2 separate regions of the Homo sapiens genome follow, and region 2 is linked to region 1. Evidence: fine-mapped expression QTL. A gene starts in region 1. The other region holds a variant in brackets. All regions are shown on one strand. Distances are from middle to middle.

Region 1 (4,388 bases):
ACCATAGCAAAGAACCACAGAGTGCGTGGTTTAAAGAACAGAAATGTATTCTCTTATAGTTCTGAATGGCAGAAATCTGAGAGCAAGGTGGCAGAAGAATGGGTATTCTCTGAGGCCTCTCTTCTTTGCTTTTATTTATTTATTTATTATTTATTTATTTTGAGACAGTCTCTCTCTGTCGCCCAGGCTGGAGTGCAGTGGTGCCATCTCAGCTCACTGCAACCTCGCTTCCCAGGCTCAAATGACTCTCTCGCCTCAGCCCCCCAAGAAGAGCCTCTAAGCGGCAAGAGAAAGAGGGACGACTCTCGGCTAAATGTAGCTGAGCCAGGGCAGTGAAGCTTGACAATAATGGCACAAGAGAGGTGGACCTGGCACATGCATAGTCAGCATGGAGGGGATACTGCGACCGAGAGGAGGAATCTAGACCCAACCCCAGGCTCCAACATGGAGTGAGAGTTAAGCAGTCAATTCATGGGGTCAGAATGAAAAGAAATCTCACGGTGGGGCAATTTAGGCAGATTTACTCTCTCCTGTGTGCATGCTCCAAGTCCTTTGCTCAGAATTCTCCCCAGAACCTGACACACCACATTGCAGTGGTCTAAATGCTTGTTCACTCCTTAAAAGTAGCCATGAGAGATGATGTCTCAACCTTCATAGCCGTAATGTTAATCACATAGCAAACTCCTGTTGAAATAATCACCTAGTTCCCTTTCTTAATAAACAAGAGATGCTAAAACCCAGAAGGTTAAGTGAATTCTGAGAGGCATGGAGAGTTTGTGCCAGTGTCAGCATCTGAACTCTGGTCTTTATTCCCAGCCAACTGCTCTCTGCATCGCAAGGCAAGCGAGTGGCAAAGCTCCGGCTAGAGCTGGCAACAGAATATAGAATTCTTGGTTCCTCCTGCAGAAGTGACTGAGAAGCATTAGTTTGTTATAAATGGCAGCACTTCTTTCGTTGGGTGTTGAGGGACAAGTCCCTTTCCTGTTATTTAGAATTGAGCTCCCTTTAATAGCAGTGCCTGGTGCTGAAGATTACAATGAGATGGGCTGCTTCTCACCGGGGGAACACACACAGGCATCTCCCCCGCTAGCAAACTGCTTTGATCATGAGAGTCTGCAAGCTCAGAAACGCAGGATGGCTCTCTGCAGAGGGACTTGTGAAAGCCCGTATCTTCTGCCCCACTGTTACCTGATAGAGTTGTCCAGGTTCTTGGCCTGTTGAACAAAAAATTGAACGAAATGCACGGAGTAACGAAAGAAAGAAGCAAGGAAAAACAAAGCAACAGAAGGGAGGAAGGAAAACGTAGATTTATAGAAGACAATTCACAGAGGGCGCTGCAGCAAGCCACAAGAGCCTGACGCTCCCCAGGGATTTTATAAAGCGAAAAGAACTTGGCAACACCCTTGGGTTCCCTTTAGAGGCCTCCAACTGGTTACACCTTACGAAGGACTGGCCTGCGACCAGTCCGAGGCTGAAGTGGAAACTTCTGCCTTGTTATCAGAGGAGCGAGGATGTGGCCTGTGTGCCGCCTAATCATGCCTAGAACTGTCTGCACCTGCTGATCTTTTGCTTCTGCGAACTGGCTGCACCTGCTGTTCTCCTGCTCATACCCTAGCCCGTGCTTACCCTAATTCCCTGTTCTCCTGCCTCACCACCAGAGGCCCGGGTTGTCTGCACAGTCTCATTTTCCACGTTATTCCTGTAATGAACCCGTCCTCCCACCCCCACCAGCAGTTACAGGGCTGGGTGCGGAGACCAACTCTGGCCAGACACAGAGGAGCAGCAAGAACCCGGGGCAACGGTCCTGTGAGTGAGTGCATGTGGGGGAGAGAAATGGAATGAACAGAAATAATTTAGGAAGCACTTTTTACAGAGCACTCAGGTTCTGCCTGAGGAGGTGGGGCGGGCGCTGGTAACATTTGGACAATCGTGGTTAAAAGTGACCCCATCAGCACCCGCTGATCCTTCTTGAACTTGATAACCTTGGTGAAAACGCCAAGCGTTGGAGAAATTCAAGGAATGGCTGTTGTAATGTACATTTCACGCTTAGCCTTTCCTCCCCGCGCTGGGAAGAAGTGCTGCGCACCGCGGCTCCGCCAGGGGGCAGGAGAAGTCACATTACACAGAGAACTAAAAAAAAAAAAAATTCCCCAACTTTTTCCCCCAAACCTTGTTCCTCCTGAAGAAACCGAATCCTCCCGCTTCGGCGTCCCAGGAGCCCGCCCCTCGCCCGCCGCCTCCCCTGCGTCCCCGCCCCGCGCAGCCGCCGCGCTCCTGCGCTCCGAGGTCCGAGGTTCCCGAGATGAAGGTCTGGCTGCTGCTTGGTCTTCTGCTGGTGCACGAAGCGCTGGAGGATGGTGAGTGACTCTGGGCGCGGGGCCACCTAGCTTGTGCCCTGACTTTAGCCGGGACCCGAAGCCCCCGCCGCCCTCCTGCCAGCTCTTGGTCTAACGTTCGGCCCTCGGTGGCTCAGCCCCCGCGCCACTGCCTGCCCGGTGCACCTGCCCCCTCCTGGTGGGGTCTCCTTTCCTCCCACTCTTTGCCTGCCCGGAGAGCCCTCTAGGGGTGGTGGCAGCTACCCCGACCCTTAGGAGCCCACCAGGACCTCTCCAAGTCCCCATCTCCGGGCGAACCAAGCATCCCCAGCCAGCGCCTGGTCCAGCCCCCAGTGTCAACGTGTCGGTCTGGGAGGTGGGGCGGGAGCCTCGGATCGCTTCCACCTCCCAGCGGCGTGGCTGGGACCTCTGCTGCTGAGAGCGAGTGCCACCTAAGCTCGGCAATCGCTGATTCGGTTGCAGAGTTCCAGGTGACCTCCCCCTCCCCTCGCAGTTCTGGGCGTGTTTTCGTCTACCACCTTTTGCTTGAATCCTGCAAGATCTGCCTAGATCTTCGAACAAAAATGTCAGTGTATGAAACTTCAAAACGAATCAAAAGCCCACGGCTTATTATATTTATCTAATTGGATGGGAAATGGTGAAGAAAATGCATTTTTTTGGTACAGCTTATGGGACCATGACCGCTGCGCGTTTTTGAATGTGTACCTGTCCTGGGTCCACCCTGTCGTGTACACCCGTGACCACAGGGTCTGGTGTTATTTTTCTGTGTGTCTGGGTGTGTGTATTACTGTGGTGTGTATTATATATTATTGTTAGCATTTAAATGTTTTGTTTGCTCTATTCACTCCATGGGTGTTATTTGTACAGTACATGTTTCATCTGGGTGCCTCCTGGTGTCCTCAACCCTCTCTTGAAATTCCTGGGCTACAACACAATTTTTGCTTAGATTTAGTGGAAAAGTAGCTTTTGCTGTTATGCAACTTCATGCTGGAGCCAGCTCGACCTGGCTCACATTTTTATCCACTCGTTCATCCTGACCAGTTCCTTTCTTTCCTAGGAAACTACATTTGCCAAAAAAATACCGCATTGTAGTTTGCAAAATCCAAGATAGTCGTGGTACTTGAAGTTGAGCATGAGGGTCCTTCAGCCTAGAGCTTTGCTTAATAAAACGTAGGCAGAGCTTCTACTGGGAGAGTAACACTTAACTCTGCCCAGAGAGAAGTTGCCATGAGTTCAGTTTGTAAAATGCAATATTAAAATGCTCCTGGCAGGCCCTTGTGTGCAACCGCTGAAAAGGCAGAAATGTAATTTGTAGTATCATTTTTTGAATAGGGCAGGAGATGGCCAGGCAAAATAATTTCAAATCAGCCATTCCTTTGTTTATACCCAACTTGCCAGTCTTAGAGGCTCAGAAATTGACTTCCATTCTGCCTCCTGGATCTCACCCAGCCCATGTGAGTTTATTACAAACATCTGACTAAATTTACCCTTTCTTTAAGTGTAATCCATACAAACAATAAGCATTTATGAGACAATTGGAGAAAGTGGAATACAGACTGAATGTAAGAAATAGTTCATAAATTTTAGGTGATAATAGCACGAAGATTTTGTTTATAAAAGTACACACATCTGGCCGGGCACAGTGGCTCATGCCTGTAATCCCAGCACTTTGGGAGGCCAAGGCAGGTGGATCACAAGGTCAGGAGTTCAAGACCAGCCTGGCCAAGATGGTGAAACCCCGTCTCTACTAAAAATATAAAAATTAGCCGGGCGTGGTGGTGGGCACGTGTAATCCCAGCTACTTGGGAGGGTGAGGCAGAGAACTGCTTGAACCTGGGAGGCAGAGGTTGCAGTGAGCCGAGATCGCACCACTGCACTCCAGCTGGGCGACAAAGTGAGACTCCATCTCAAGAAAATAAAGATAAAAATAAAAGCACACATATCTATAATGTATGGACTATTTATGGATACAATAGTGAACACACAGTGCTTCATTAAGTTATGTAACCGTTTGGCTAAACCTATTAAGAATGGTTTTTGGTTTTGAGTTGT
Region 2 (4,388 bases), 32 kb after region 1:
ATGCTGAAGGTAGAGCGTTCTCTTTCCAGACTCACTGGCACCAGCTGCAGGCCCTCCGTATTTCCCCAGAGATGGGTGGGTGGAGGCTGCAGGATACAAGACTTCCCCCAGTGTACTCAATGTTCTGAGAGCGTTCAGCTTGCAGAAAAACACAGCTATGTTCCGTTCAGGACAAGGGTGGGGGGCAGGTAATAATAGAACGAGGCTCATTGTGCTGTTCTCAGGATAGAATGAGGTCATGCGTGTAAACCTCTTGGCACACATAGTAAGCCACCTAAATATCGGTGAGCTATTTCTGTTCACCATACTGTACCCAAAGGAGGTAAATCATAAGAAACAGCCAGTTTTTCGTTTTTTGTTTTTTTGTTTTTTTTTTTTTTTTTTTGAGACGGAGTCTTGCTCTGTCACCCAGGCTGGAGTGCAGTGGTGCAATCTGGGCTCACTGCAACCTCCACCTCCCAGGTTCAAGCAATTCTCCTGCCTCAGGCTCCTGAGTAGCTGGGATTACAGGTGCATGCCACCATGCCCTGCTAATTTTTGTATTTTGATTGGAAATGGGGTTTCCTCATGTTGGCCAGGCTGGTCTCAAACTCCTGACCTCAAGTGATCCACCTGCCTTGGCCTGCGAGTTTCGTTTTAAGAAACGTTTTAGACGTGTGTCTCAATCCCCTACAAACTCTTTGTGTCCATAGCACTGTGGAGGGCTCACTGATGCTCATACTAATGGTCCCAAGGTTCTCTAGATCACCCATTGCTCGTCGATCTAGTCATTAGAGTAGGGGAAATTGGTTGAAGCACGTTCTATAGTTTTGGGGAAAACGTCTTCTGCTAACTCTTACTTAAAAATAATGTTTCTACCTACACCAAATATGTATTTAAAAAAACAACAAAAAAAGTTTCTTTCAACAAAACATTTCATTTCTTGAGCATTTCTGGTAAGTCTAGGATTGATTATCCCAGATGTGTTGCACAGAATTAAAATACAGTAAGAAAATGACAATACAGTCAAGCTAGTGCGTTAAACCAAAGACACTGTAGGAATATCACCAACTATGTTAGATGATAATTTTGGGGCATCTTGCAAGATGGAGCATTGTTTATAGTACCAGTGATTGCATGTATTTTATGAGTGAAATGTTGCTTTAACAAGTAAGTATACATGTGGGTGACGTCTGGGATTTAATGCTCAAATGTAAACACTGGTGTGTTAGTAGCATGATTTTTGGCCAAGTATTTGAATATAGAAGATGTAAATAAAACAGCTTTGAAAGATATGTCAAAGGAGGGAGCAAGAAAAGAGGAATAAAGGATAAGATGTAAAATGGGAAATTTTATGTCCACTAGTGTATAATTGTGTAGAATGGCACATTTATAAAAAAGCAAAACGAAGATGTCAGAGGTTTGCCTCCAGTGTCCGGGCTTGGCTGCCTTGGCGGCTCCGTCCCACCCACACAGCCGGCTGCAGGTGGGCAGCTGCTAAGTTGCTGCCCTGGGGAGTCCGCCCAGAACCTTCTCTTGTCACTTCCCGTCCTGCATTCCCAACTTGTCCACTCTGTCCTGGGGCCTCAGGGGCCTGTCTCCTGCCTCGCTTGGTGCCTTCCTGCTCAAAGACTTTGCTTGGATTGCCTTTGGGAGTTCATCCTGATTTGCCCCTGGTCTCTGCCTTTCAGACCACATCCTACTGTCCAAAGCACTCCTCTCTCTCCATCCCACTGCCTAGATCCCAGATGAGATCTGGTGTCTCAGTTACATTGGAGCAGAGGTCAGAAAGCACCAGCTCACCCTTCCCTGTAACAGCACTGTTGTTTGTGAACTTGACTTCATAGCTGGGAAAAGGTAGGGGGTTGGGGGCCCTGTGAGTCAACCAACATTGATACAAGTGAATCAATGTTGAACGTGCCCTCATGCGTTTATTTACCCAGGTGGCTCGTGCATTGGCACAATATATCACATCAGCTGGTAGGCATCCTGGGGAAGGAGGCAGAGGGAGGCACTGTCCCATACAAGAGCCGGAGGGGTGACCAGAGCGAGTGTGTCACAGCCTTCAGTTCAGTGTTGGTCTGCTGAGGAGAATGCACGCTAAATAGCATTAACGTTTGCTTAATGTATATATAAAGGCAGTCTACTAAGTCAGAATGCTTATGAGGGGGGAAAAAAGACAGAAATAGTCCCAACGACAAGCAGCTTAAGAACTAGTGAGATAAAAGACAAACCAGATACAAGGACAGAGCAACAGAAGACAGTGTGTGGTCAAGTGTGAGTGTGGAGCGGCTGATAGGAAGGAGAGAAGGCAGCTGTGAGCAGGCGTTGGTGAGGCAAATGGAATCATTGTGTAAGTGATGACCT[G/A]ATTGTTGGAGACCAGGCCTTGAAGATAAGATAGAGACTTGTACAAAGCAGAGCCAAGGAGGGGCCAGGCAAGGCAGCTCATGCCTGTAATCCCAGCACTTTGGCAGACTGAGGCAGGAGGATCACTTGAGCCCGGGAGTTTGAGACCAGCCTGAGCAAAATAGTGAGACCCCATCTCTTAAAAACAAACAAAAAGTTTTAGCTGGATATAGTGCTACACCCTGTGGTCCTGGCTGCTTGGGAGGCTGGGGTGGGTGGTTGAGGCTACAGTGAGCCATGGTCACACTGCTGCACTCCAGCCTGGGTGACAGAGCAAGACTGTCTCAAATAGTGATAATAAAATAGGAGCCAGCTGGGCACAGTGGCTCATTCCTGTAATGCCACCACTTTGGGTGGCTGAGGCTGGTGGATCACCTGAGTTTGGGAATTCAAGACCAGCCTGGCCAACATGATGAAACCCTATGTCTACTAAAAATACAAAATTTAGCCAGGTGTGGTAGTGGGCACCTGTAGTCCCAGTTACTTGGGAGGCGCAGGTTGCAGTGAGCTGAGATTGCACCACTGCACTCCGACCTGGGCGACAGAGCGAGACTCTGTCTGGAAAAAAAAAAAAATTACCTGGGTGTGGTGGCGTGCACCTGTAATCCTAGCTACTCAGGAGGCTAAAGCAGGAGAATCGCTTGAACCTGGGAGGTGGAGGTTGCAGTGAGCTGAGATCACGCCACTGCACTCCAGCCTGGGTGACAGAGTGAGACTCTGTAAAAAAAAAAAAAAAAAAAAAAAAAAAAAAATAAGAGCCAAAGAGAACAGCATCAAACCTCCCCCAAAAGATTGTGATATGCAGCCAGGTTGGAGAACCACTGATGTGGCTTGAACCCTACGTTTTAAAAAGTGACTAGATTGAGCCACAGAGCCTAAGAGACTTGCTCATGTTGCACAGCTTTTAGTAAAGTAAACTCAAATCAAGCCATATTCCCAAGATCTCTGTAGTCTCTACACCAAGAAAACAGTTTGTTTATTTAGGTTTCTGATGTTACTCAGAAGATTTACCATCAAAGTGGCATTGTTATGAGCGATTACCTTGAAAACGTTGGCAGGAGGGAGATTTGGTGGATTTCCCCGCAGTGAATTCACTGTGCTGGGTGCAAATGGGTCCAGGCCCCATGGCTGTTGCATTCACTATTCTGACTTGGCCATAATACACTCACTGTGCCTGCACGCCTGCCCATTAGTAATTCACAGCTTGTTCTCCTAGCAAGGGTGGCAGAGGCTTGCTCCTTTGTCCTCTGTCCTCACTCATCTTCCAGGGCCGATTCTTCCCAAGTATGTGGCTGTGAGCGTTCAGCTGAGCAGAGCTGGGGCATGTTTTTCTGATGTTACCCACAGAGAAGTGCTGATGAGCTTCTGCTACATGGTAAGATTAGAATTGCCAGATTTATAGTAAGGGTTGGGCATCCTAATCCATAAATCCGGAATCCGAAATGCTACAAAATCTGAAACTTTTTGAGCAATATGACATTCAAAGGAAATGCTTACTGGAGCATTTCAGATTTCAGATTTTCAAATTAGGGATGCTTAACTAGTAAGTATGATGCAGATACTCCAAAATCTGAGAAAAATCTGAAGTCCAAACCCCTCTGGTTCCAAGCATTTTGGATAAGGGATTCTCAACCTGTAGTGTGAGTAACCCATATACATCTGAGTTATATGGTCACAAAGTTTGAAAGATGACCTTGTCAAATTTACATGAGAAGGGCCAGGCGCGGTGGCTCACACCTGTAATCCGAGCACTTTGGGAGGCCAAGGTGGCAGGATCCCTTGAGCTCGGGAGCTAAAGAGCAGCCTGGCCAGTATGGTGAAACCCCGTCACTACTAAACACACAAAAATTAGCCGGGCCTGGTGGCGCATGCCTATAGTCTCAGGTACTCAGGAGGCTGAGGCGGGAGATTCCCTTGAACCCAGGAGGCAGAGGTTGCAGTGAGCCGAGATCACACCACTGCACTCCAGCCTGGGGGACAGTGAGATTCCGTCTCAAAAAAAA

What was found. PIP is the estimated chance that this variant, and not a neighbour inherited with it, causes the effect.
Region 2: its variant is fine-mapped to the expression of PDGFRL in fibroblasts (GTEx, PIP 0.98).

Annotation. Positions count from the first base shown.
Region 1 is chr8:17,574,951-17,579,338 of GRCh38, forward strand. It overlaps PDGFRL (platelet derived growth factor receptor like), which reads left to right and starts at 2,266. Exons shown (of 6, transcript NM_001372073.1): 1 at 2,266-2,357. The coding sequence starts at 2,303. RefSeq lists silencers at 2,472-2,531, 2,622-2,671.
Region 2 is chr8:17,606,529-17,610,916 of GRCh38, forward strand. The region is part of intron 2 of PDGFRL (platelet derived growth factor receptor like); the gene reads left to right. All of the region lies in intron 1 of LOC107986919 (a long non-coding RNA gene), which reads right to left. Among named protein-coding and RNA genes, the nearest start is that of PDGFRL, 32 kb to the left of the region's middle. The variant G/A (reference allele first, on the strand shown) is at 2,347.